Linked DNA regions of Homo sapiens: all the other regions are linked to region 5. The links come from fine-mapping of genetic effects on gene expression. A gene starts in region 5. Each other region holds a variant in brackets. All regions are shown on one strand. Distances are from middle to middle. Region 1 has its middle 69 kb from the start of CRYM. Region 2 has its middle 34 kb from the start of NPIPB4. Region 3 overlaps MOSMO (modulator of smoothened). Region 4 overlaps OTOA (otoancorin). Region 5 holds the start of UQCRC2 (ubiquinol-cytochrome c reductase core protein 2).

Region 1 (5,140 bases), 610 kb after region 5:
ACCAAACACAAAGCTGGTGCCATTGGCACGACCTAGAAACAGCCATGTTCCTCATCCCCCAGAGCGCACCACGGTCACTCAGTACAGCACGTGTGCGCTGCTTACTGCCCTGTGCCTGCTGCTGCCTGTGCTGCAGGAAACAGCCCAGAGTCGAAGGATGGTCACCAGCCACCCGGAAGACAGTCCTGCTCTGGCACGCAAACACGGAGCATCGCAACCGGCCGGCCTCGGCTTTCCAAGAACTCAGACTGTCACTCCCGCCTTCACATTCCAGACCCCAACAGCAGCTGAGCCCGCACTTCTGAGCGCGTGGCTGGGTAGAGCTCCAGAAACTGAGACAATCACAGACATGGCAGGTGCGTCAGGGCTATGACCAGCTCTCAGGACTGGCAGCATCACCTTGTGGGATTCCCCACCATCCTATGAAATCGGCACTAATCCCGTAGAGGCCACCAGGAAGCTGGGGCCACATGGCAGGTGAGGGGGTATGTCAGGTCACCTGTGCAGGGGCAGACCCCATCTCGGCCACACTGGGGCCCTCCCCTGGCAGGAAGGGCAGGGCCAGACAGGGAGAGAAGGGTACTCAGAGGGCACTTCGAGCCAGAAGCAGAAACATCTACCCAGGAGATCTTTGCCAAGACAGACCAGAAGCTGTGGAGACCAACGGACAGGAGGGGGAGGCAGTGAGGCCACAGAGACTGCAGGCCTGCTATGTGCACCCTGGAAGCGGAGTCCTGCAGCCCTCGCCCATGTTCCCCATCCTGGGGGCTCCCTGCTGCCCTCGCACTGTGACACCGATGAAGGTCAGGAGCATGCGGGCACAGTGCCTGCAGGGACAGGGCTGCAGCGAGAGATGACTCACCTCGCTGTCCTGCGTGATCTGGACTTGCTCCCCCTGCGGCACCTTGGCGATGTGGAGGTGTCCCTGTGGGATCCGCAGCAAGAAAAGACACCAAGAAGCATCAGAAGAAAATAAAAAGCAAAGGAAACAAGAAACATCTTCCGGAATGTTTGTTCTTGATTATCTGTTTACAATTCAAAAAGATAACTAAATCCTGAATAGTGCAATATAGTCTGTGGTCACCTCTTTAAATTAAGCTTTTGGTTCACAGTAGTCCCCCTCATCCATGAGGGTTTCAAGAAGCGCCCCCTCCCCCCACCACGTGGACGTCAGAAACCGTGGATGGTGCGGAACCCCGTATATGCTATGCTTTTTCCTGCCCATACGTGCCACACAGCTTGGACATGCTGGACAAAGGAATGACTCACGTCCCAGGCTGGACACAGCAGGACGATCAGACTTCATCATGCTACTACCCAGAAGAGTATGCAATCTGAAACTTACAAATTGTTTATTTCTGGAGTTTCTCATCTAATATTTTCAGATCACAGTTGACTATGGGTAATTAAAACCTAGGAAAGTGGAAGCATGGGTAAGGGGGGGTACTGTGTAACACAGAACATGTTCCAGTACTTCACAAAGGAGCAATAGGTCCCAGGAAAGATATATACATCTTTAAATGTTACTAAACAAGTAAATTTTAAAATGTGCATGACACACAGAAAAGAGGGGAAATAGAAAATCACAATGACACCTCTTTTCAAATGATACGTTCAGCTCTCTGGGGATGCTGGGAGGCTACGCAAGCAGTGTATGGCTGAAGCAGGGGAGCTGTTTGCGTGCCTACACTCACAACAGGGCAGGCAACATTTTTCAAATCAAAGAAACACTCATATGACTATTTAAACAGTTTGAGGAAACACTAACAAATGTGATTCAAAAAAAATCAAAGAATCCACTGTTTATACATATGGGCAGACAAATATTTCCTATAAACCTGTAAATGAAATGAATACTTATCTTATTTGAAATTCTCTCTTAGTCGAAATGGATCTTAAACTCCTGTAGAATGTTCTATGTAAGCCTTATGACAAAGTTATCTACTCTGGAACGCTTTCAAAGAACTTCTTACTAACAAGATGAGAGGAACTGCCATTGTGAATGTCAAATAAATTAATAAGCTTATTAAATAAGATTCACTATTCATAACTGTCTCATCTCCTTTGGAAGAGGAAGGGTAATGCCCCCTCTAAAAGCCCCAGAATTTTCTGGAAGCCTTCCCTCTTCCAGACAGCACGCTGAAGCCACACTGAGATGAGAGCCACGACCCACTCTCAACAGTGGAGGACCTTGTTTCCAGGAGAAAGCCCTGGTAACACGGAGGCACACGATGACCTGTCTTCAGAGGGCCCAAGGGGGCTGGTGCCACTAAAAACATAGGCGATGTCTAGTGGTGCATGTAAAATTTCTAGTCACTCAGCAAAGCTTCCAGAAAAGTCTTCTTCTCAGCCGCCCCCTACTCTCGTGCCACAGAATCCAGGAGGTGTTTGTAGAGGGACTTCACCCGGGAGCGAGCCCCTAGGCGCATCAGACTGACCACAGCTTGGGTCACAAAACCCCAACAGAGAACTCCGCATGGGCAAGGCAGGACATTGACTTGCTGCTGGGACAGTGCCCGCCCAACCTGGGTGTGCTGAGTAACTCCAAGGGAAACGCTGCATGGGAACAATGACCTCAAGCTTTTGCCACTGATCCTAGAAGGAAATTACTCTTTCCCTCAGTAAGAGGACGCCTGCACTTCTGAGCTGAGAAATATTTCCGATGCTTCCCAGGAGCACGAGCTGGGGCAGGGACCACTGCACAGCCTGACCCTTGGAGCTGACTGCCCGCCTGCCTGCTGGCAGGACTGAGGTGAGCTGACTGAACGCCCCACCCCACCATGTGCTTCAATCCCTAGGCTCTGCAGCAGCCGCCCCCACCTGTGAAATGTTAAGAGCTCATGGCCATGATGACCTCTACTTTAAATGGGAACCTTGTGCCTCCTCCCAAGCTATCACTGTGCTCC[C/T]GAAACACAGCGGAACTGGTGGAAGCCGCCAGGGCCCTGCCGTGGCCCACCCCGCAGCCCCCTTTCCCAAGGTGCGAGGTGGAGAGGGTACGTACTACTTGCACCTGTCCGTCTTCTCCGATCTGGTGGATCTGCACCTGCTGCACGTTGGCCAGCGCGTAGTGCAGGGCCTGCGGCTGCGGCTGTGGCTGCAGGAGCTCTCTGGCAGGAGGTGGGGTGCTCATCATCGGCTCTGTGGGGGCAACAGGTGTGAACGGGGTGAACGAGAAGTTTCTTAGGCATTGCCTTGTGCAGCATGTGTGCACCCCCGTCCCTCACTCTCGACTCCCACAGCAGAGAAGAGGAAATGCTTCATTTTTCCTCGGCTCACTGCATCTCCACTCTTCTGCAGAGATCACTACGAGTGAGTCTTAGGAACTGAGGTTTCCGACATGGAATGCAGAAGGGCCTGAGAGTGGCGTGATGCTGCTATGACAAAACCCCTTTTAGTCCCAACTTATTTAAATGAATGAAGTTCTTAAAGTGGACATTAAAAGCTGTTTCAGGCTGGCAATATTTGTCCATGGGTAATTAAACTAATAGAGCAAAAGTCTCATCCACGCACTTAAAGATACATTTCCAACAAATTTTACTTGCTGTGTTTAATCAAAATGAGATACATTTGCTTTGATGTACTGTGTATTAATTTTCACTGTAATGATGTCTCAATCATAATTTTCTTAAACTCTTAGAATATTAAGAGCACAGAAAAACTTTAATTTTCATTGTATACACGTAGTTTTGTTGCAGAGAATTATAATGACTAATTTTAAAAAGCTTTTAAGCATAAAAATGTAGTCTGGGCACGGTGGCTCACACCTGTAATCCCAGCACTTTGTGAGGCCAAGGCAGCCAGATCACCTGAGGTCACGAGTTCAAGACCAGCCTGGCCAACATGGTGAAACCCCATCTCTATTAAAAATACAAAAATTAGACAGGTGTGGTGGTGGGGGTCTGTAATCCCAGGCACTCAGGAGGCTGAGGCAGGAGAATCACTTAAACCTGGGAGGCGGAGGTTGTAATGAGTCAAAATGGCACCACTACACTCCAGCCTGGGCAACAGAGCAAGACTCCATCTCGAGGGGACAGGGGAGGGAAGCAGAAAGATGAAATTCTGTGAGAGAAGTAGAATGTTGATATGAATGAAAGGAGAAAAATGAAAGACATAAAATTTCTGATTATTAAAGAGAAGCGGGCCAGGCGTGGTGGCTCACGCTTGTAATCCCAGTACTTTGGGAGGCCAAGGCAGGCAAGATCACTTCAGGTCAGGAGTGCGAGACCAGCTTGACCAACATGGTGAACCCTGTCTCTACTAAAAATACAAAAATTAGCCAGGTGTGGCGGCACGCATCTGTAGTCCCAACTACTTGGGAGGCTGAAGTAGGAGAATCACTTGAACCTGGGAGTAGGCGATTACAGTGAGCTGAGATGGCACCATGGCACTTAGCTCCAGGCAACAGAGTGAGCGGGGGAAGGGACGGGGAGGGGCAAGAGAGGGGAGGGCAAGAGAGAGGAAGGAAGGAGGGGGGAGGGGAGGAGGGAGGGGAGGGGGAGGGGCGGAGAGGGGGAGGGGGAGGGGCGGAGAGGGGGAAGGGGAGGGGCGGAGAGGGGAAGGGGAGAGAAAAGCTTTCCATGTATTTTTTACCAATAGCTAATGGTAGGTATTAAATTGCCATAGTACATAGATTCCACTGAATACATTTTTTAAAGTAACAATAAAATGTTGGTTTTTTTTTTTTTTTGAGACAGAGTCTTGCTCTGTCACCCAGGCTGGAGTGTAGTGGTGTGACCTTGGCTCACTGCAACTTCCGCCTCTCAAGTTCAAGCGATTCTCCTGCCTCAGCCTTCCAAGTAGCTGGGATTACAGGCACCCACCATCATGCTGGGCTAATTTTTTTTTTGTATTTTTTTGTAGAGAAGGGATTTCACCAGGTTGGCCAGGCTGGTTTTGAACTCCTGACCTCAAATGATCCGCCTGCCTTGGCCTCCCAAAATGCTGGGATTATAGGTGTAAGCCACTGTGCCCAGCCACATAACAGAATGTTGATACTTGCAATATGCTAGAAATTGCCTAGCTACACTAAATCAGAATCTCAAATTCATGAGATTCAAAGGAGATTCAACATGCCCACCTGCATGCTGCATGTGGAGAGCTTGGCTCCAGCCAAAGACCCTGACTCCACCTGAGCACCTCC
Region 2 (5,088 bases), 130 kb after region 5:
GCTCAGAGTTTCCTTTAAATCTTTTTAAAAACTTGGCAGCCTTAGTCTTAGCTGTGCTTTGGGAAAATAAGGAGCTGCACTCAAGCTTAAGAAGATATTGCTGGAAGTGTACATTGGCACAGCCTTCGAAGCTTCTTGGTGCCCTCCTGTAACCCAATCGACACTGGCTAGAGAGATGAGGTCATATTGCATCAAATGGCTTCCAGTGATTCTTTGCTGTGGACAAGAAAGTTGCTCTTTTTCTTTGAGAAAGTTGCTCTTTTTCTTTGAGAGGGAGTTTTGATGCCTAGGCTGGAGTGCAATGGCAGTGATGTCGGCTCACTGCAACCTCTGCCTCCCAGGTTCAAGTGATTCTCCTGCCTCAGCCTCCCGAGTAGCTGGGATTACAGGAATGTGCCACCATGCCAGGCTAATTTTGTATTTTTAGTAGAGACAGGGTTTTTCCATGTTGGTCAGGCTGGTCTCGAACTCCCGACCTCAGGTGATCCACCCATGTTGGCCTCCAAAAGTGCTGGGATTACAGGCGTGAGCCACCACGCCCAGCCAAGAAGGTCACTCTTTATGCTCAACAAATGTATTGCAAATGGCTGAAAGGTAGGGAGGATCCAGATGAACAATTTCTAAATAGGAAAACTAATAGCCAGACACGATGGCTCACACCTGTAATCCCAGCATTTTAGGAGGTCGAGGCAGGCAGATCACCTGATGTCAGGCATTTGAGACCAGCCTGGGCAACACGGAGAAACCCCATGTCTACTAAAAATACAAAAATTAGCCAGGTGTGGTGGCGGGCATGTGTAGTCCCAGCTACTCAGGAGGCTGAGGCAGGAGAATCACTTAAACCCGGGAGGCAGAGGTTGCAGTGAGCTGAGCTTGTGCCACTGTACTCCAGCCTGGGCAACAGAGAGAGACTCTGTCTCAAAAAAAAAAAAAAAAAATCGTAGATATCCAATTTGTTCCTTTCTCCTTTCCTAAAAGCTTTTTGTGCCCCCTCCAACCCAACAGTTCCACCCTAGAAAAACACTTGTACACATACATCAGGAAACGATACAAGAATATTCAGGCTGGTCGCGGTGGCTTGCCTATAATCTCAGCATTTTGGGAGGCCGAGGTGGGAGGACGGCGAGAGATCATGCCACTGCGCTCCAGCCTGGGCAACAGAGGGAGACTCCGTCTCAAAAAAAAAAAAAAAAAAAAGCATAATGTTGAAAACAAACAGCAGTATAATACAGCATGGAGATAACTTTATAAAATGCAAAGACAAATAAAAGTAAATATAGTGCATTGTTTAGGAGTATAAATATGGTAATTATGCAAAGAAAACTAAAATGACTTTTAAAAATCATGATGGTGACTATTTTTGGGAGGAAAGCAGGTAGAAGGTGGGATCTGAGAGCAGCACACAGTAAGTGTCAATTGTCCTAGTTAATGTTCGGCTTCTTAAATTGGGTGATATGTTCACAGGTGTTCATTATGTTCTTTTTTTTTTTTTTTTTTTTGAGACGGAGTCTGACTCTGTTGCCCAGGCTGGGGTGCAGTGGTGCGATCTCGGCTCACTGCAAGCTCCACCTCTTGGGTTCATGCCATTCTCCTGCCTCAGCTTCCCAAGTAGCTGGGACTACAGGTGCCCGCCACCACACCCGGCTAATTTTTTTTTTTTTTGTATTTTTAGTAGAGACGGGGTTTCACCGTGTTAGCCAGGATGGTCTCGATCTCCTGACCTCGTGATCCACCTGCCTCGGCCTCCCAAAGTGCTGGGATTACAGGCGGGAGCCGCTGCGCCCAGCCCATTATGTTCTTATAACTTACATTAACATATTATTTTATATATGTCAAGCTTTTTTTCCCTTTTTTTTTTTTAAGAGATGAGATTTTGCTTTGTCACCCAGGCCAGAGAGTGTCGTGGTGCAGTCATAGCTCACAGCAGCCTCCAACTCCTGGGTTCAAGTGATTCTCCCACCTCTGTCTGCCAAATAATTGGAACTACAGGCATGTGCCACCATGCCTGGGTAAGTTTTTTTTTTTAATTTTTTATTTATTATTATACTTTAAGATTTAGGGTACATGTGCACAATGTGCAGGTTAGTTACATATGTATACATGTGCCATGCTGGTGCGCTGCACCCACTAACTCGTCATCTAGCATTAGGTATATCTCCGAATGCTATCCCTCCCCCCTCCCCCCACCCCACAACAGTCCCCAGAGTGTGATGTTCCCCTTCCTGTGTCCATGTGTTCTCATTGTTCAATTCCCACCTATGAGTGAGAATATGCAGTGTTTGGTTTTTTGTTCTTGCGATAGTTTACTGAGAATGATGATTTCCAATTTCATCCATGTCCCTACAAAGGATGTGAACTCATCATTTTTTATGGCTGCATAGTATTCCATGGCATATATGTGCCACATTTTCTTAATCCAGTCTATCATTGTTGGACATTTGGGTTGGTTCCAAGTCTTTGCTATTGTGAATAATGCCGCAATAAACATATGTGTGCATGTGTCTTTAAAACAGCATGATTTATAGTCCTTTGGGTATCCTGGGTAAGTTTTTTAAAAGTGTTATTTGTAGAGACGGAGTCTGGCTGTGTTGCCTGGGCTGGTCTCAAACTCCTGGCTTCAAGGTATCCTCCTGCCTCAGCCTCCCAAAGCTCTGGCATTACAGGTGTGAGCCACTGCACCCAGACTCAGACTTTTTTTAAGGGAAAGAATGGGAGTGTAGGTGGGGAGACACACTTTGGGAGGCCAAGGTGGGAGGATCACTTGGGCCGGGGGTTCAAGACCAGTCTGGGCAACAAAGTGAGACCTCGTATTTACCAAAAATACAAAAAATTAGCTGGGCTTGGTGGTGTGGGTTTGGGAGGCTGAGGTGAGAGGATTGCATAAGCTGTAGGAGCCCGAGGCTGCAACGAGCTGTGATCGCGCCATTGCGCTCTAACTTGGGCTAGACAATGAGATCCTGTCTCAAACCAAAACAAAACAAAACAGATAATTGTCAAATTGCTGTTTTG[C/T]TATTGTTGCTTTTTGTTTTTGCTTCGCTTTGCCTTGGAAGTGAAGAAGAGATTCTCATTTAAACAGTTATCTTGAAGTATCTTTGTGAACTAGGGTGCAATTATTTCCTCTGTCCTTGAGACACAGATGATTCCTGTCCAACATTCCCAAGGAACTCAGTAAGGACCAAATAGAGACTCAGGAAAGACAGTTACTGATTTTACACTGTTGCAAAACAGAGCTATGGTTTATGTTTAACAAACTGCTGGTGGGGCGTGGTGGCTCATGTCTGTAATCCCAGCACTTTGGGATGCCAAGGTGGGTGGATCACTTGAGGTCAAGAGTTCGAGACCAGCCTGGCCAACATGGTGAAACCCTGTCTCTACTAAAAATACAAAAATTAGCAGGGCATGGTGGTGCATGCCTGTAATCCTAGCTACTGGGGAGGGTGAGGCACAAGAATCGCTTGAACCTGGGAATCGGAGGATGCAGTGAGCCGAGATCACGACACTGTACTCCATCCTGGGTGACGGAGCGAGACTGTCTCAAAAAAAACACAAAAAACAAAAAAACCAAATTGCTGTATTTTATTTTGTGAAATAGGGTCTAGCTCTGTTGTCCAGGCTGGAGTGCAGGGGTGCAATCACAGCTCACTGCAGCCTTGACCTCCAGGGCTCAATCGATCCTCCCTCCTCAGTTTTCAAGTAGCTGAGACTACAGGTATGCACCACCATATGCTGCCCAGGCTGGTCTTGAACTCCTGGAGAGAGATACATACACACACACACACACACACACACACACACACACACACACACTTTTTTTTTTTTTTTGAGACACAGTTTCGCTCGTCACCCAGGCTGGAGTGCAATGGCACAATCTTGGCTCATTGCAACCTCTGCCTCCTGGGTTCAAGCTATTATCCTGCCTCGGCCTCCCAAGTAGCTGGGATTAGTAAGGCACTGCCACCATGCCTGGCTAATTTTGTATTTTTAGTAGAGACAGGGTTTTGTCATGTTGGCCAGGCTGGTCTCAAACTTCTGGCCTCAGGTGATCCACTTGCCTCGGCCTCCCAAAGTGTTGGGATAACAGGCATGAGCCACTGCGCCGGGCCCATACATATGCATTTTAAAAAATTTATTTATTTATTTCGAGACAGGGTCTCACTCTGTTGCCCAAGCAGGAGTGCAGTGGTGCTATCTCCCAGGCTCAAGCAATCCTCAGCCTCCCGAGTAGCTGGGACTACAGGTGTGTGCCATCACACCCAGATAATTTTTATTATTTTTATTTTTTAAATTTTTTGTAGAGATGGAGTTTCACCGTGTCACCCAGGCTGGATATTTTTGTATTTTTGATAGGCCTGTACAGTTTCCAAAGTTGCAACCTTTCCCCCTCCCTGAGAGTAGGGGCAGCCCCGGCTCTCCCTCTACATCCTCCACAGTCCCGAGGTTTTGGCCTCTGTTTCCTCTGTTTCCTATGCTTGGAACACCAGTCGCTCTTTTGTTGGTCTGGCTGACTTCTGTTCCTCTTTTAAAAATTTAAGTTTGGCCGGGTGCGGTGGCTCACGCTTGTAATCCCAGCACTTTGGGAGTCCGAGGCGGGTGGATGACCTGAGGTCATGAGTTCAAGACCAGCCTGGCCAACACAGTGCAACCCCGTCTCCACTAAAAATACGAAAATTAGCCGGGTGTGGTGGCATGCGCCTGTAATCCCAGCTACTTGGGAGGCTGAGGCAAGAGAATTGCTTGAACTGGGGAGGCGGAGGTTGCAGTGAGCTGAGATCACGCCACTGCACTCCACCTGGGCAACAGGGCAAGACTCGGTCTCAAAAGAAAATAAATAAATAAATAAATAAATAAATAAATAAATAAATAAAGTCAAGGGGGTAACACCTCTTGGTAACTCTCCTGTTGTTTCTCATGCCAGCATCATCACAGCCTTGAGGCTCTGGGGTAGGTCACTTCGTCGAGCTCGTTTCCATGAGGATAACGTTATCTTGGGTGTCTGTGAGAATGCTGCACTGAGTATAGAGCCCAGGCTCCTGGGTCAGCCGGGTTCGAATCCCCTTTCCTCCGTGAAGATCTGGGTCAGTCACAAGT
Region 3 (5,140 bases), 92 kb before region 5:
TGTTATTTCTCCATTTTACAGATGTACGGATAAAGAACCTGAGGCACACAGATGTAGAGTAACATCTTTCTTACACAGAGATGTTGGATTTGGGAATTTGGCTCTATAATCTGTGTTATTTGCTATGCTACACAGTCCTACACTGCAGTAGCAACCATGGAAGTACACTGCTCAAGATCTCCCTTGAAGATACCTTGCAGTTCAGTTCTGATGTGCCTTTAGGACTTAACTCCCTCGTCTTTCAAGATCAGGCCACTTTCTTCCCTGGCAGTCACAGGTCAATAACTGAATACATGGGAGTACCAGGGCCTGGCTATTTCTAACCAACTGGTAGTACTATCCTTCTAATAGGCAATCTTCACTCCAGAGTGCCCCACTGAATAGGCTGTAACTGTTAGATGTAAATCAGTCTGAGCTCTTTCCCTTCCTTCAGCTTCTGACTGCCTATCTTTCACAGGTACTCAGTGAACTATTTGCAGTCCTAACTCTGTCTCAGTGTCAGCTTCCCAGAGGACCTGACACAACTGCCTTTCTAAGGAAACTTCAAGTGCATACACCTTTCAGCTTAGCAATTTCATTTTTACATATGCAACCCACAGAAAAACCTGCATATAGGGAAAAAGAAACAGGTACAAAGATGTTCACCGCACTATTACTTATAATAGCACTATTACTAAATATCTATCAATACAGGAATGGTTAAATTATGGTGCATAGGCCAGGCGCGGTGGCTCAAGCCTGTAATCCCAGCACTTTGGGAGGCCGAGGCGGGCGGATCACAAGGTCAGGAGATCAAGACCATCCTGGCTAACATGGTGAAACCCCGTCTCTACTAAAAATACAAAAAATTAGCCGGGCGTGGTGACGGGCGCCTGTAGTCCCAGCTACTCCGGAGGCTGAGACAGGAGAATGGCATGAACCTGGGAGGCGGAGCTTGCAGTGAGCCGAGATTGTGCCACTGCACTCCAGCCTTGGCGACAGAGCAAGACTCCGTCTAAAAAAAAAAAAAAAAAAAAAAAAATTATGGTGCATAAACAGTATAGAATACTAAAAGGAAATAATTCTGTGTATATTGACGTGGAAAGATCTCTAACACATGAGAAAAAAGCAAACCACACAATAGTATATATCATGAGATCCATTTATTAAAAAATTATATATATTTCTGTAAGTCCACATATTTATAAATATGTAGAAAACTGATAGTAGTTCCAGAAAGGAAAGATGCCAGGAGGGGGTGAAAAAGGTAGGGATGAGCGAGTCCTATATTTTAACTTTTCATTTTAAAATGTAGAATGCATTAATATATATAGTCGATCCTCATTATTCAGGGATTCCATACTTGCAAATATGCCTACTCACTAAAATTTATCTGCAAGCTCCAAATCAATAGTTGTGGCACTTTTGTGGTCATCTGAGGACGTAATCCACGTGTAGAGTGGCAAAAAAATTTGAGTCACATGACAGCCATGTTCCCATATGCAGCTTAGCATGGCAATGCTCTGTTGTCTCAGTTCTCCTATAGTAAGTGCATGTCTTTTCTGTGGTCTCTTCAGCGCCACGTCTTTCACATTTTTGTGCCTTTTACTGATGATTTCACTGTTTAAAATGGTCCCAATTATAGTGCTCAAGTGCCGTCTAGTGTTCCTAAGTGCAAGAAGGATTTTCCCTTTCAGAGAAAATATGTGTGTTAGGGAAACTTCGTTCAGGCATGAGTTACAGTGCTTCTGGCACAATACTGTTGACATATATTCTTGTACAGGATTATTAATATATAATATTAATGTAATTGAATCAATACATATTAAATAATATGTCCTAAAACAGAGACATACAATGAGGTTATGTATTGATCAGTTGATGAAATGTGACCAGAGACCTGCAGGAACCTAACCCTATTTCCCCCAGGGGCAATGATCCAGTATTCACTAATTCAATGTTTGCAGTGACTTTACAGAACATAACTACCACATGAGAATCGACTGTATTACTAAAGTTTAAAAAACAAAAAAGAACCATGTTGGCCAGAGCAATAGCTCTAGTCTTTAAATAGAGCAATAAAGCCATTAATAGGGGTTGAAGTGTCCCTTTAGCTTTCCTGTGCACTCAAATCCCACATTCCTCAGCTGCCTGCTTTTCATGGTGATGATATGGCCAGGAATTGAACAATGAGAACACATGGACACAGGAAGGGGAACAGCACACACCCGGGCCTGTTGTGGGGTGGGGGGAGGGGGGAGAGATAGCATTTGGAGATATACCTAATGTTAAATGACGAGTTACTGGGTGCGGCACACCACCATGGCACATGTATACATATGTAACTAACCTGCACGTTGTGCACATGCACCCTAAAACTTAAAGTATAAAAAAAAAAAAGAGTTCTAGTGAAGAAAGAAAAAAATATATATCTCTTAACTCAAATTTTTCTTGACAAGGCCCCCAAAGAGAATTAAAGAAATCAAAATGAGTTACTACTGACACCTAAATTCATTCAAAAAGACTTGCAATTTTTCCCCAGAAATTATCCATAAGTATTTTAGAATATTTTATGGATCCATAAATGATCCATAGAATATATGCATTAATTATACTTACAGTTGAGCATCCCAAATCCAAAAATCCACATGTGGCTATTGAGTAAATGAAATATGCTATGCAATTATTTTTTTAAAACAGTAACTAAAACCTTTTTAAACTTACTGCCACCCTTTTAGCGTAGGAAATCTTTTTAAGAAATGCAAAAAGCAAATTTTTATTTTCAGGATCTAATACCTAATCATTTTTCTCAGTTCCTAAATATTTTACTACCCATCAAGGCCCAGAGCCAATACTGATAACACAATACATTTTATTTATAAAGACTATGGTGCTCTAGCCCCAGCGCTGCCTTTCTATGCCTTTCCCACTCCTGTAAAGTCACATCAGAAAACATCACATTTTTCTAAAATACCCAAACTTTACACTATGAATTAACTATGAACATATTAGAATCTTGATTGTGTATAAGAAACCACAGAGAAGAACTGAATCTCTCCTTTCACCTAGTTACATTATTGCCTTTTTTTTTTTTTTGAGACAATGTCTGGTTCTATTGCCCAGGCTGGAGTGCAGTGTCACGATCTTGGCTCACTGCAACCTCCAACTCCTGGGCTCAAGCAATCCTCCCACCTCAGCCTCACGAGTAGCC[G/A]GGACTACAGGCATGTACCACCATACCTGGCTAATTTTTTTTTTTTTTGTATTTTTTGTAGAGATGGAGTTTTGCTAAGTTGTCCAGGCTGGTCTTGAACACATGAACTCAAGCAATCTGCCCACCCTGGTCTCCCAAAGTGTTGGGATTACATGTGTGAGCCACCGCTTCTGGTCTATTATTGCTATTATATGTAAGCTCATCATATAATGCAGAATAATTTGCTAAACTGAAGAGTTACTCTTAACATGAGGGCCCATGAAAGGTAGCATAGAATAATGGTTAGGAGACAGTAAGCTATACAGCAAGGCTGCCTGGGGATCTGCCACTTACCAGCTCTGTAACCTTGGGCAAGTTACTTATCTTTTTCCCTACCTCACTTTCTTCATCTGTGAAATGGAGAGAGTAAGTAGTACAGGTTGAGTATCCCTTATCCAAAATGATTGGGACCAGAAGTGTTTCAGATATCAGGATTTTTCAGATTTTAGAATATCTGCATTAATTATACTTACGGTTGAGCATCCCCAATCCAAAAATCCAAAATGCTTCAGTGAGCATTTCCTTTGAGCATCATGTCAGTGCTCAAAAAGTTTTGGATTCTGGAGCATTTGGGATTTGGGATGCTCAACTGTACCCACTTCACAGGATTCTTAGGAAGATTAAATAAATTTATTCTTGTAGGAAGCTTAGGAACAATCCCTGGCACACAGAAGTACTTAATAAATTAGTTATTATTAATGTTGACAGGTTGTGCCAACAATGCAAACACAACACTTCTGGCTACCTAACTTGGGGGAACAGGTAAACATGTATCCCTTCAGTGGGTAGTACTCCATATAACTATTATCTATACTATTTTTATATATGGTGTGGTTTGGCTCTATCCCCACCCAAATCTCATCTTGATTGAAACTCCTATAATTCCCACGGGTTGTGGGAGGGACCTGGTGGGAGATAATTGAATCATGGGGGCGGGGGGTTCCCTCCCATACTGTTCTCATGGTAGTGAATAAGTCTCATGAGATCTGATGGTTTTATAAGGAGTTTCCCCTTACACTTGGCTCTCTCATTCTCTCTTGCCTGCAGCCATGTAAGACAGGCCTTTCACCTTCTGCCATGATTGTGAGGCCTCCCCAGTCACGTGGAACTGTGAGTCCATTAAACCTCTTTTTCTTTATAAATTACCCAGTCTTGGGTATGTCTTTATCAGCAGCATGAAAACGGACTAATACAACATAATTGACACTTCAGAATTTCTCGAACTTACCTAAACTGATCATATATTTAAGGCAAGTCTCTACGATTATAAATTCAACTGCTGGTATACAGAACCACCTAGACTTTATCAGATTCTGTACCTAAGATCTAAAAGTAACAAACAACTCAGCTTTCTCTATGGCTGGGAGGGACAAACTATTTTGTCTTGAATCAAGGTATAATTTTGCATTTCTCTGGATGGAAAAGTATAGTATGTTAGTCCTGTTTAATTTAATTAATGAATTCCAATTTTTCAGAACACAGTAGGCTTTCCTTGGGATACCTAGCAAAATGGCTAGAATAAAAGAGGTGCTCAATAAATATTCACTGATAAAATATAGGAAGATGAGGCAAGAGTGTGTGAATAGTCAGATGATAAGCATCCATGTGAGCAATGTAAAGATACATATTTAAGGAAAAATAATCCCTATATGTGTCAAATGATAGTTATGTCAGAAATGGAAATGTACTGCTGTGACTAAAAGACTAAAATGCTGGGTACCATCAGAATTTAATGAAAAAAAGCAGAAAACTTTAAAATTCTTGCTATTCATAATGCTTATCTGTCCTCATGAAGAATATACAGTTTCTATGTGTCATGCTAGCAACCTAATGGCCTAAGACAGTTAAAAGATCACAGAAACAGATGAAAAATTTTCCATATGTTAAATTCCCAATGCTGCATGTCTTTAA
Region 4 (5,115 bases), 240 kb after region 5:
ACGTGCACTCAGCCCATCTATGTGCCAAGTATAGGGATGGGTGACACCTTAGGGGCACAGCAGTGAGCCAGACAGATGCTGCCTCCACAGGCCTTCCTTCCTTCTATCAAGAAAGAGAGTTGGCCAGGCATGGTGGCTCACGCCTGTAATCCCAGCACTTTGAGAGGCCAGGCGGGTGGATCACCTGAGGTCAAGAGTTCGAGACCACCTGGCCAACATGGTGCAACCCCATCTCTACTAAAAATACAAAAATTAGCCAGGCATGGTAGCAGGTTCCTGTAATCCCAGCTACTTGGGAGGCTGAGGCAGGAGAATTGCTTGAACCCAGGAGGCAGAGGTTGCAGTGAGCTGAGATTGTACCATTGCACTCCAGACTGGGCAACAAGAGCAAAACTCTGTCAGAAAGAAAAGAAAGAAAGAAAGAAAGAAAGAGAGAGAGAGAGAGGGAGAGGAAAGAAAGAAAGAAAGAAGAGAGAGAGAGAGAAAGAAAGAAAGAGAGAAAGAAAGGAAAGAAAGAAAGAGAAAGAAAGAGAAAGAAAGAGAGAAAGAGAGAAAGAGAGAGAAAGAAAGAGAGAAGGAAAGAAAGAAAGAAAGAAAGGAAGGAAGGAAGGAAGGAAGGAAGGAAGGAAGAAAGGAAAAGAAAGAAAGGAAGGAGGAAAGAAAGAAAGAAAGAAAGAAAAAAGAAAGAAAGGAAAGAAAGAAAGAGAGAGAGAGAAAGAAAGAGAAAGAAAGAAAGAAATTATACTTGGGTTTTTTTTCCTTCCTTTAGAGTGAAGATGCTAGATAGTTTTCCATATAATCAAGGACATGCTTTGGTTCTATGAAAAGACAGCTGAGTGGGTTCCTTTAGTTATTCTGTGTATAATGGGTGATCTCATGCTGTCTTCAAAGAAGGCAAGACCTTTTGACCTCTTGCCTTCTGAGTAAAAGTGGCCTCACCCCTCAGTAGGAAGAGTTGGGTATTAGGAAAGAGACAAACCACTTTGTCCTGGGCTGGGAGGGAACAAAACCGTCTCCCTCAACTCCCTAAAATCAAATTCAGAGAGGACTGTCAAGGTGGACCCATGGAGCCCCAGTCAAGGTCCAGAAACAAGGATTCAAAGCCTTCAACATAAAGTCACCACGAGGCTAGAAGAGACCAGATGAATGGGCTGGCCTGGTACCTGAGTCAGAAAGTGGGAGTGCGTGGGCATTGGTCATGGTGCCATAATGGAGACAGTGAGCACAGGAGTTAAACAAGATGGCTCTGAGGCCAGGTGCCCTGGGTTCAATCCCAGCTGCGTAACTTTCACGTGGCCTTTTCCAGTTCCCTTACACACTCTGTACCTCACAAGAATGAACTGGAAAATGAAGACTACAGCACTACTGACTTCAGAGGATTGTTGGATTAAGTTATTAATTCACTTAGAACACAACCTGGCACATAGTAAGTGTTCAGTAAATGTTTGTTATTCCACACCCTCCCTCCCTTGGCCCCGCGATGGAGGAAGCAGGCTAGGACCAGCCCTCGGAGCTGCAGCTGCCCTTCATCCCTCCCTCGCCCTCTCTACCGACATCCTGCTCCAGTTCCCACTTGGATTTACTTTGGGGAATGTGGTTGGAATATATCTGGCTCAGAACCATGACATACCAAACCCAGCTTTAAAAACTTGAAGAAATTTAAAAAGACTTGGATGCCAAGAAGAAATTCCCTACTCCTTCTCTTTGGGAGGCCAAGGCGAGTAGATTGCTTGAGCCCAGGAGTTTGAGATCTGCCTGGGCAACATTGCAAAATCCCATCTCTACAAAAAAATACAAAAATCAGCCCGGCGTAGTGGCATGTGCCTGTGGTCCCAGCTACTCAGGAGGCTGAGGTGGGAGGATCACCTGAGCCTGGGGGGTCAAGGCTGAAGTGAGCCAAGATCAGATCACTTCACTCCAGCCTGGGCAACATAGTGAGAACCTGTCTCAAAAAACAAAAAAAGAAGAAGAAACCCCCCAGTTCCTGAGGCCGACTCCAGCACTGCCTTCTGGATGCATGGATTCTACTCTATAACTCTTAAACCCCTTTACCGCCTGAATCAAAAGCTTTTGTTTTCATTTTACCACCTGAATCAAAAGCTTTTGTTTTCATTTCCAACCTCAGTGATGCGATCTCGGCTCACTGCAAGCACCGCCTCCCAGGTTCACGCCATTCTCCTGCCTCAGCCTCCCGAGTAGCTGGGACTACAGGCACCCGCCACCATGCCCAGCTAATTTTTTTTTTTTTATTTTTAGTAGAGACATGGTTTCACCGTGTTAGCCAGGATGGTCTTGATCTCCTGACCTCGTGATCTGCCTGTCTCGGCCTCCCAAAGTGCTGGGATTACAGGCGTGAGCCATCGTGCCTGGCCTAGTGATTTTCTTCCTTGTGAGACACTGTGGTATTTTGCTTTAGAACAAGCAAAATGGGGCCCCTTACATTTTCAACATCTTCACCTCTTCCCATATCCTCCTTCAAGCTGCATGGGAGGTACTAACACTAGAATTACGGTGCTAGGTTAGTAAACATGACCTTTAAGGAGTAGTCTCTCCTTTATTCTTTGGGATTCCTACTACTTTTTTCTTTTTTTTTTTTAAGACAGAGTCTTGCTCTGTAGCTCAGCCCAGTCTGGAGTACAGTGGCATGATCTCGGCTCACTGCAACCTCCTCTGCCTCCTGGGTTCAAGTAATTCTTCTGCTTCGGCCTTCCAAGTAGCTGAAATTACGGGTGTGCACCATCATGGCCAGCTAATTTTTCTATTTTTAGTAGAGACAGGGTTTCACCATGTTGTCCAGCTGGTCTCAAACCCCTAGCCTCAAGTGATCCATTCATCTTGGCCTCCCAAAGTGCTGGGATTACAGGCATAAGCCACCATGCCCAGCCTACTACCTTTTGTCAAAATAAAAA[T/C]TGATGAGTTTTGTATAGTTGGTCAGACACAGTTAAAACTAAATTCACAGTTTAGCAATTATAATGGGTGCTTGTTAAACATCTGGTAGTAAATTATGTTGTTTCAAAGTAATTAAAATTAATATCCAGAAGCCAAAAATAAACAAATGTTTGTTATTATTATTTGATTGGAATGGGTCCTAATCCAATCCTTGTGAGCCAGTTTGCATCCTGGGAAGTGGCCAGGAGTGTGGACTAAACGAGAAGGACACCAAAAGCCAGGCACGGTGGCTAATGCCTGTAATCCCAGCACTTTGGGAGGCTGAGGCAGGCGGATTACAAGGTCTGGAGTTCGAGACCAGCCTGGCCAACATGGCGAAACCTCGTCTCTACTAAAAACACAAAAATTCGCTGGGTGTGGTGGTGGGTGCCTATAATCCCAGCTACTCGGAAGGCTGAGGCAGGAGAATTGCTTGAACCCGGAGGCGGAGGTTGCAATGAGCTGAGGTTGTGCCATTGCATTCCAGCATGGGCGACAAGGGCAAGACTCCGTATCAAAAAAAAAATTAGATGACACCAAAATGCTTAGAACTCAAGTCTCCCAGATTTGGAGCCCTCTGGACTGGACCCAACCCAGGGACATTAATTGTCCCCAAAAGAATGTCCATTTTCCACCCCAGGAGCAGCAAGAACACAGATTAAGACTCCTGTCCCCACCAAAGAGGACTGTCTGCCTGACAGTTCCCTCTCTGCAGCCCAAGATTGGAATAAAATAGCATCATCCCTAATCCCAAAGTAATGGCAAAAACCGCAATTACTTTTTGCATCAACCTAATAGCAGCTTAACAGCAGGCAGGAAAATCCTGGGATGAGTCCCACACGTTGATCCCACTCAGGGATGGCTAATGCCCCTTGAGCTCCTACTCTGTGGTGTCACCTGGTGGTCTAGCTTCTTCATGTGTACCAACTCACATAATATTCGCAGCAATGCTACAGGATAAGTGCTACTGATTTGTTGTTGTTGTTGTTTAATTTTTTTTGAAATGGAGTCTTGCTCTGTCGCCCAGGCTGGAGTGTGGTGGCACAATCTCTGCTCACTGCAACCTCTGCCTCCCAGGTTCAAGCCATCCTCCTGCCTCAGCCTCCCAAGTAGCTGGAAGTACAGGCATGCACCACCACGCCCAGCTAATTTTTGTATTTTTAGTAGAGACGGGATTTCACCATGTTGATCAGGCTGGTCCCAAACTCCTGGCGTCAGGTGATCCTCCCACCTCAGCCTTCCAAAGTGCTGGGATTGCAGGTGTGAGCCACCTTGCCCGGCAGTAAGTGCTATTGTTGTCCACATATTACAAATAGAGAAACTGAGTCAAAGTGAAAATAGCAAATTGCCTAGTGTCACACAGCTAGTAAATGGCAGAGCAAGGATTTGAACCCAGGCAGTCCTCCTCAGCATCATCTTCTTACTGATTGGTTGCCCCCTGCTGTGTGTGTATAACTGATTGTTATGGATTAAATATTTGTGTCTCCCAAGAATTCATATGTCAAAGTCCTAACCCCTAATGTGATGGCATTGGGAGGTGAGACCTTTAAGAGGCCTTTAAGGGTTAGATGAGGTCATGAGATAATGAGGGTCAGGTGGGGCCCTGATCCAATGGGATTAGTTTCCTTGTAAGACGCAACACCAGAGAGCTTGCTCTCATGTGGTCAGGTGAGCACACAGCAAGATGGCGGCCACCTACAGGCCAAGAGAAGAGGCCTCAGAATGAAACCTACCTTTCTGACACCTCGATGTTGGACTTCCCAGTCTCCAGAACTGTGAGAAATAAATTTATGTTGTTTACGTCACTCAATCTACAGTATATTTTTATGGCAGCCTGGCAGGTCTAATACACTTAGGTCATCTTAGGGGAATAAAAAAGAGTTTAAAACTCCAGCTGACCTTCTCATGGGCCAAGTATTTGGCAGACAAGATGATGACCTGGCTCTTGGCCCAACCTGAGACCTGGTTGAGGGTGGAGATGGCTCCGTGCACAGCCTCGGGGGAGAGGGATTCCAGTTGGCTGTAGGTCAAACCTACAACTGCATCCGACAAAGAACCCAGGGTCTCATTGAGGGTCTGGTTCTCCATGGCAATGTCCAGGAGTTCTGCTTTGAGCTGGAAGGAGAGCAAACTGGAATGAGTGTTGACAGGAAGCAGGGCGGTGGCTCCCTCTGACCATATCCAGGG
Region 5 (5,000 bases):
AGACCACACAACCAAAGGTCTTAGTTTTTTTGACTAAATAAAACATTTATGACATGTATGTCATCCTGAGATTAATAATGGCTTCATCCACATCAGATTCTCAATATATAAAATGCAGTTACTGGTAGGGTGAAAGGGTCCCATTAAATATTAGATAATGGACCCAAAATGCATTCATTTTATTCAGTTTGTTTTGGCAAATGTTATACAATGCCATACAAATCATTCTGATTATGACTAAAGTTCATGAGGTTATTAGAGGAGATGATGAGTGAATAAAATTTGGTGCTCCCAAGACCCAATGAACACCTCCTCACTGGAGTTTCCCGGACATCCCTGCACAGTCTGCAATGCCTCCACTCTGTGCTGTCCAGAAGGCTGTTTGTTGTACATCATTAGTGCTGTACTAGGTTGGCTGCTGGTTATCACTTGCTTTTAGTACTGCTTTTCAGTTATGAATTACAATTAGCTTTACTTTATCGTCATCAATTTAGTTTGCTGGGTATGGTATAGTTAACCTTCTTTGTAATTTTGGCCTATAATTTTCCAAAAAGTAAACTTTTAAGATATATGGGCATAGCAATTCAAATATGAATAATCTATAATTCCGTTACCAAGTGAGATTTTAGGTGTTTTCCAACCAAATGTGCCCAAATAGTAACTCTTTGTTGGTAATTTTTTTTTTTTTTTTTTTTTGAGACGGAGTCTCGCTCTGTCGTCTAGGCTGGAGTGCAGCGGTGCGATCTCGGCTCACTGCAACCTCCGCCTCCTGGGTTCAAGAGATTCTCCTGCCTCAGCCTCCTGAGTAGCTGGGATTAGAGGCGCCCACCACCACCACGCCCGGCTATTTTTTTTTTTTTTGTATTTTTAGTAGAGACGGGGTTTCACCATGATGGCCAGACTGGTTTCGAACTCCTCATCTCAAGTGATCCGCCTGCCTCTGACTCCCAAAGTGCTAGGATTACAGGTGTGAGCCATCGCGCTCCGCCGGTAATGTGCTTCTTAATCGTCCCATTCAAATCAGCAAATTATCCTAGTAACTGTCATGCAATCTTCTAAATTATTTTGTTCTAATAACAAGATATATCTAAGTTTATTCTCCTATATAAAGTGCTAAAATTAGACACATAAATAATTGCTTTCAAGTTTACTGCAATTTGTTTACTTTGGGCCTCTCCAACTGTTTTCTCTGAGCTTTTTCTGTTGCAAAATAGAATGGAGAAGGAAATGTTGGGGTCTTTTGCCAATCTAACCGTGCTTCCCTCCAAGGGTAATCACTGGTGTGTCTAGGTATACCTGGAAGGTTAATGCAATTACAGCCTAAATCGATATAGCCCACAGCACATTTATGTAAACATAAAGCATAAGAACATTCCATGCCCAGGTCTGGTCTTCTGCATCTCCATCTAGGGGGGTTTCTCAACACAGGTACTACTACTGGCACTTGGGGCTAGATAATTCTTTGCTGTAAGGCGAAGTTTAGCAGCATCCCTGGCCTCTCCATGCCAATAGCACCCTCCTTACAAGTTGTTGCAACTAAATATGTCTCCAAACATCGCCACCGGTTCCCTGGGGGCATTCTGTCCCTCGCTATGATTTTTTAAGTGTTCCCCCTTACCCCTCTTAATAACCACTGTCCCACAGTGATATAACCCTGATGTGTGAGTTTTCCCCAAGTGACAGCTATGTTTAATTTAGGCTTGAAGGGGAAACTTAATTAAGGAGCTTTTGAGGACAAACAGAGACGTCTTGGAGGAACCGTCTAACATACGATCAAGAAAAGCAACGTTAGACTACTAAGACACCATAGTATTTAACAATGAAGTTCCAGGTACTGTAATAAGTGTTCTATCTGCATTAGCTCCTTTCTTATACTTTTATTCGCTGGGGAAACTGACGCTCCGTGATAAACCAAGGAGCAGAGGCTGCAGCGGATAAAGTGAAGGTGGGGGGCTAAGTGCGCCGTCCTCCCGCTCCCCCTGGGTTTCACGGTCTCTTTCTCCAGCACTTGAGTACCGGAGTGACCTTCAGAAGTCTCTCCAAGGACTCGCTTCAACTCCGCTCTCACGTCCTGCCCCTCTCTTCAGGTTTCCCGGTGTTAGGTCTCTTGTGCTCACAGCATGAGCTGGGCCTCCAAAGCCTGACCCAGTCTGCAGCCCACTTGGCCCGCAGGGTTCAGCTGAAGGGCAGACCGAATCCCAAGGCCCAGACCCCAGACCAGACACCTCCGCCTCGTATCACCTTGTCGACACACTGCTCCCCAGCCCTTTCCCAAACCCGCCACCTGAGCTCACCGAGAAAGAGCCGGCTCTGGTTAGTAGCTTCATGATTCAAGATTGTTCTGACACACGGTCACTGCCGGATTAAAGGAAAGCAAGATGGTGGCGGAGGCCGGGAGTTTCCCAGCGTTCCCCGCTAACACTTTCCCACGTCCCCTTCGTGAGGTACTCTCTATACTGCCGCGCTCTACTGCTCTCTTTATAAGGTTGGACCAGTCCAATTCCTCCAAGACTCAGAATAGGGAGACGCACAATTTCCCAAGTAAATATATGCAGAGAATAATGTACGTCACTGCTTTTTGCGTTCTTCTCCTAGCCTGAATATCCAGTATGCACCCCTTTTCTAAGTACGTCTGCAGCAGCCTGTCACAACTCCCCCCGCTATCTTGGGCTCTTCCGCTCAGCATTGTCCAATGGGACGCGCCTCTCTTGGGACTCCGCATGCGCCCTCCGGGATGACACCTGCACTGGAGGCCCTGGGTTTCCGCGTTCCTGGACGTTGGAGGCTTCAGGAGATTCCTGCCACTCCACCTTTCTGCAGAGGTATTGGGTATCGAAGCCCGGCGTAGTTGCCTCTCGCTGGGTGAAGTCCTTACTGGATCTTTAGCTCCGTGAAACAGGGGCCTCGTTCAACGTATTCGCCGCTGTGTCCCCCAGAGCAGGCCCGGGACACACCGGGAGGGTCAGCAACCTCGGGGAATCATCACAAGGCTTTTGGTCTCGTGGAATTTACGTCCTAGGCTGGGGCTACATAGAATATAAAAACTTAGCTATAGTTTTTGTGTTAGGAAAATAGAAATGTTTTGGATAGTAGGTGTGTTATGTGAGCCGAAACCGGCAGTTGGAGAAAGTCAGTCACGTGACGACTTGGGGCGGGGGCGTTCACTCCGGTCCTCAGCGAGTGTTAACCCAGAAAGTGCCTTGAGCTAGGCACTATGCCAACGCGAGAGGCGTGGTCCCTGCCCTTTAGGGACTTTAGAGTTTCGTACCTTGCTACGTTGCTTGGTTGGGAAACCGACAGTATCAGCATCAATATCATTTAGGAGTTGATTAGAAATGTATGAACTCCAGGTCCCATATTGGATCCGAATCGGTGTTTTTACAAGATCCTGGGATGACTTCGTATGCACAATAGTTTCAGAAAGGCTGGTGGTGTAGACGTTACAAGGCATAGGCAAATGTACTTTCTTTTTGCCTTGTGTCTGAATTGCTCCAGGCCTACAACGGACTTGGGCTCTCTAATTAAGATCTGGGCATTAAGAACCTGGCACCAACCCAATTTCTGTGCCTGCTGGGGACGCCCTCAACCCAATTCATACCACACAGTTTCCCCACATGTGGTAGATTTAACACTAGTGGTGCGTGAGATGATTTTAAGTTGGTACATAGATGAACACTTCCATTTTTTCCTTTTAAAAATTTGTATAAATTTAAGGGGCGCAAGTACAGTTATGTTATATGGATATATTGCAGTAATGGTGAAGTCTGGGCTTTTAGTGTACCCATCACCCGAATAATGTACATGGTACCCATTAAGTACTTTCTCATCGTTCACCTCTCTCCCACCCCTCCACCTTTCGGAGTCTCCATTGTCTGTCATTCCACACTCTATGTCCATGTGTACACCTTATTTAGCACTGTTCCATTTTAATAATATATTTATTTTGATTATGGCAAGCAATGCTAGTAGTGAATTTCCTCTTTAAGTACATTTATAAAATAATAAAAGTTGGTGTAAAAACGTTAAGTAACTTGATGATACGGAGATACAGCAAAAATCATGAATGTGTTATACAGGTACCATTGAGTGAAATCTGGGAAGCAGTGCTCTGATCAAGCCACCTGCCTGCTTAAAATTCTTCAACGACAGCCACGTTTTTCAGGATAAAATTCAAATTCATTAACATGGCATACAAAGCTGTCTCCAGTACTTCAAAACCCCAATTCCCAAGTTAGCTAGCTGCACCCCTGAGTCCAATCATTGTAACTTCATCATTCAACAGTTCAGGTCAGGTAGGAGGAACACAAAAGTCTCCACACTCAAGTGCACACACACACACACACACACACACACCCACACCTGCTTATAATGTCCTCTCATTCTTAGGTTATGACCCAATATCAGAAAGGGGCAAAAATAAATTCTGTTCAAAATGTGGCAGGATTTGAAACATAATTCATGATATCAGCTACATAAATCATAAAATCCCAAGTTTGTCAATTGCAAAATGTCCTATTAAGCATTAAGCTACAAATTAGGAGTGCCATCTTGTGGACACATCCACCACTTCCACATCATGTCACCTCCTAGCCAACTCCGTGGCTGTTCTCACTGTGGAGGTCTCTGCCACAACTCCAGCATTTTATTGCAGAAGAAAACCCAGTCCTTGAACTGGTTTCTGCGTAGAACACACTGAAAGCCCTGGGAGAGGAAACCAGCAGACAGGAAAAGAGTAGACATGGAAGAGCAGATGAGTTCATTGCTGGAAAGCTCGAATTGTTAGTTTCGTTAATGTGGGGTCCAATTTGACTCTATGGAGCCTAACTACCTAGCCTGAGCGCTCGCGGTGAGTATGGGGTGGGAGAATGTAAAGAGAAAGCAGGCAACAGTAGGAGTAAAACACACCAGAGGAAGGTGATGTGGGTTTATACTTGGGAACAACATTACCTTGCCATCTTAGGGCCAGAGGCATTAATCATGGCTTCCCCAATGCATAATTT

What was found. PIP is the estimated chance that this variant, and not a neighbour inherited with it, causes the effect.
Region 1: its variant is fine-mapped to the expression of UQCRC2 in skeletal muscle (GTEx, PIP 0.96).
Region 2: its variant is fine-mapped to the expression of UQCRC2 in whole blood (INTERVAL, PIP 0.90).
Region 3: its variant is fine-mapped to the expression of UQCRC2 in whole blood (INTERVAL, PIP above 0.99).
Region 4: its variant is fine-mapped to the expression of UQCRC2 in blood mononuclear cells (TOPMed, PIP above 0.99). The same link has a PIP of 0.9 or more in whole blood.

The regions. Positions count from the first base shown.
Region 1 is chr16:21,345,153-21,350,292 of GRCh38, reverse strand. It overlaps the pseudogene SNX29P1. Among named protein-coding and RNA genes, the nearest start is that of CRYM, 69 kb to the right of the region's middle. RefSeq lists a silencer at 1-119 and enhancers at 1-479, 480-1,287, 2,440-2,999. The variant C/T (reference allele first, on the strand shown) is at 2,907.
Region 2 is chr16:21,820,756-21,825,843 of GRCh38, reverse strand. No RefSeq gene overlaps it. Among named protein-coding and RNA genes, the nearest start is that of NPIPB4, 34 kb to the left of the region's middle. RefSeq lists an enhancer at 4,565-5,088. The variant C/T (reference allele first, on the strand shown) is at 3,010.
Region 3 is chr16:22,043,120-22,048,259 of GRCh38, reverse strand. The region is part of intron 1 of MOSMO (modulator of smoothened); the gene reads right to left. Among named protein-coding and RNA genes, the nearest start is that of MOSMO, 38 kb to the right of the region's middle. The variant G/A (reference allele first, on the strand shown) is at 3,191.
Region 4 is chr16:21,709,816-21,714,930 of GRCh38, reverse strand. OTOA (otoancorin) reads right to left here. Exons shown (of 29, transcript NM_144672.4): 13 at 4,828-5,043. Among named protein-coding and RNA genes, the nearest start is that of OTOA, 48 kb to the right of the region's middle. The variant T/C (reference allele first, on the strand shown) is at 2,910.
Region 5 is chr16:21,950,751-21,955,750 of GRCh38, reverse strand. It overlaps UQCRC2 (ubiquinol-cytochrome c reductase core protein 2), which reads right to left and starts at 2,390. Exons shown (of 14, transcript NM_003366.4): 1 at 2,295-2,390. The coding sequence starts at 2,327. RefSeq lists enhancers at 2,048-2,097, 2,108-2,277, 1,792-2,509, 2,598-3,057.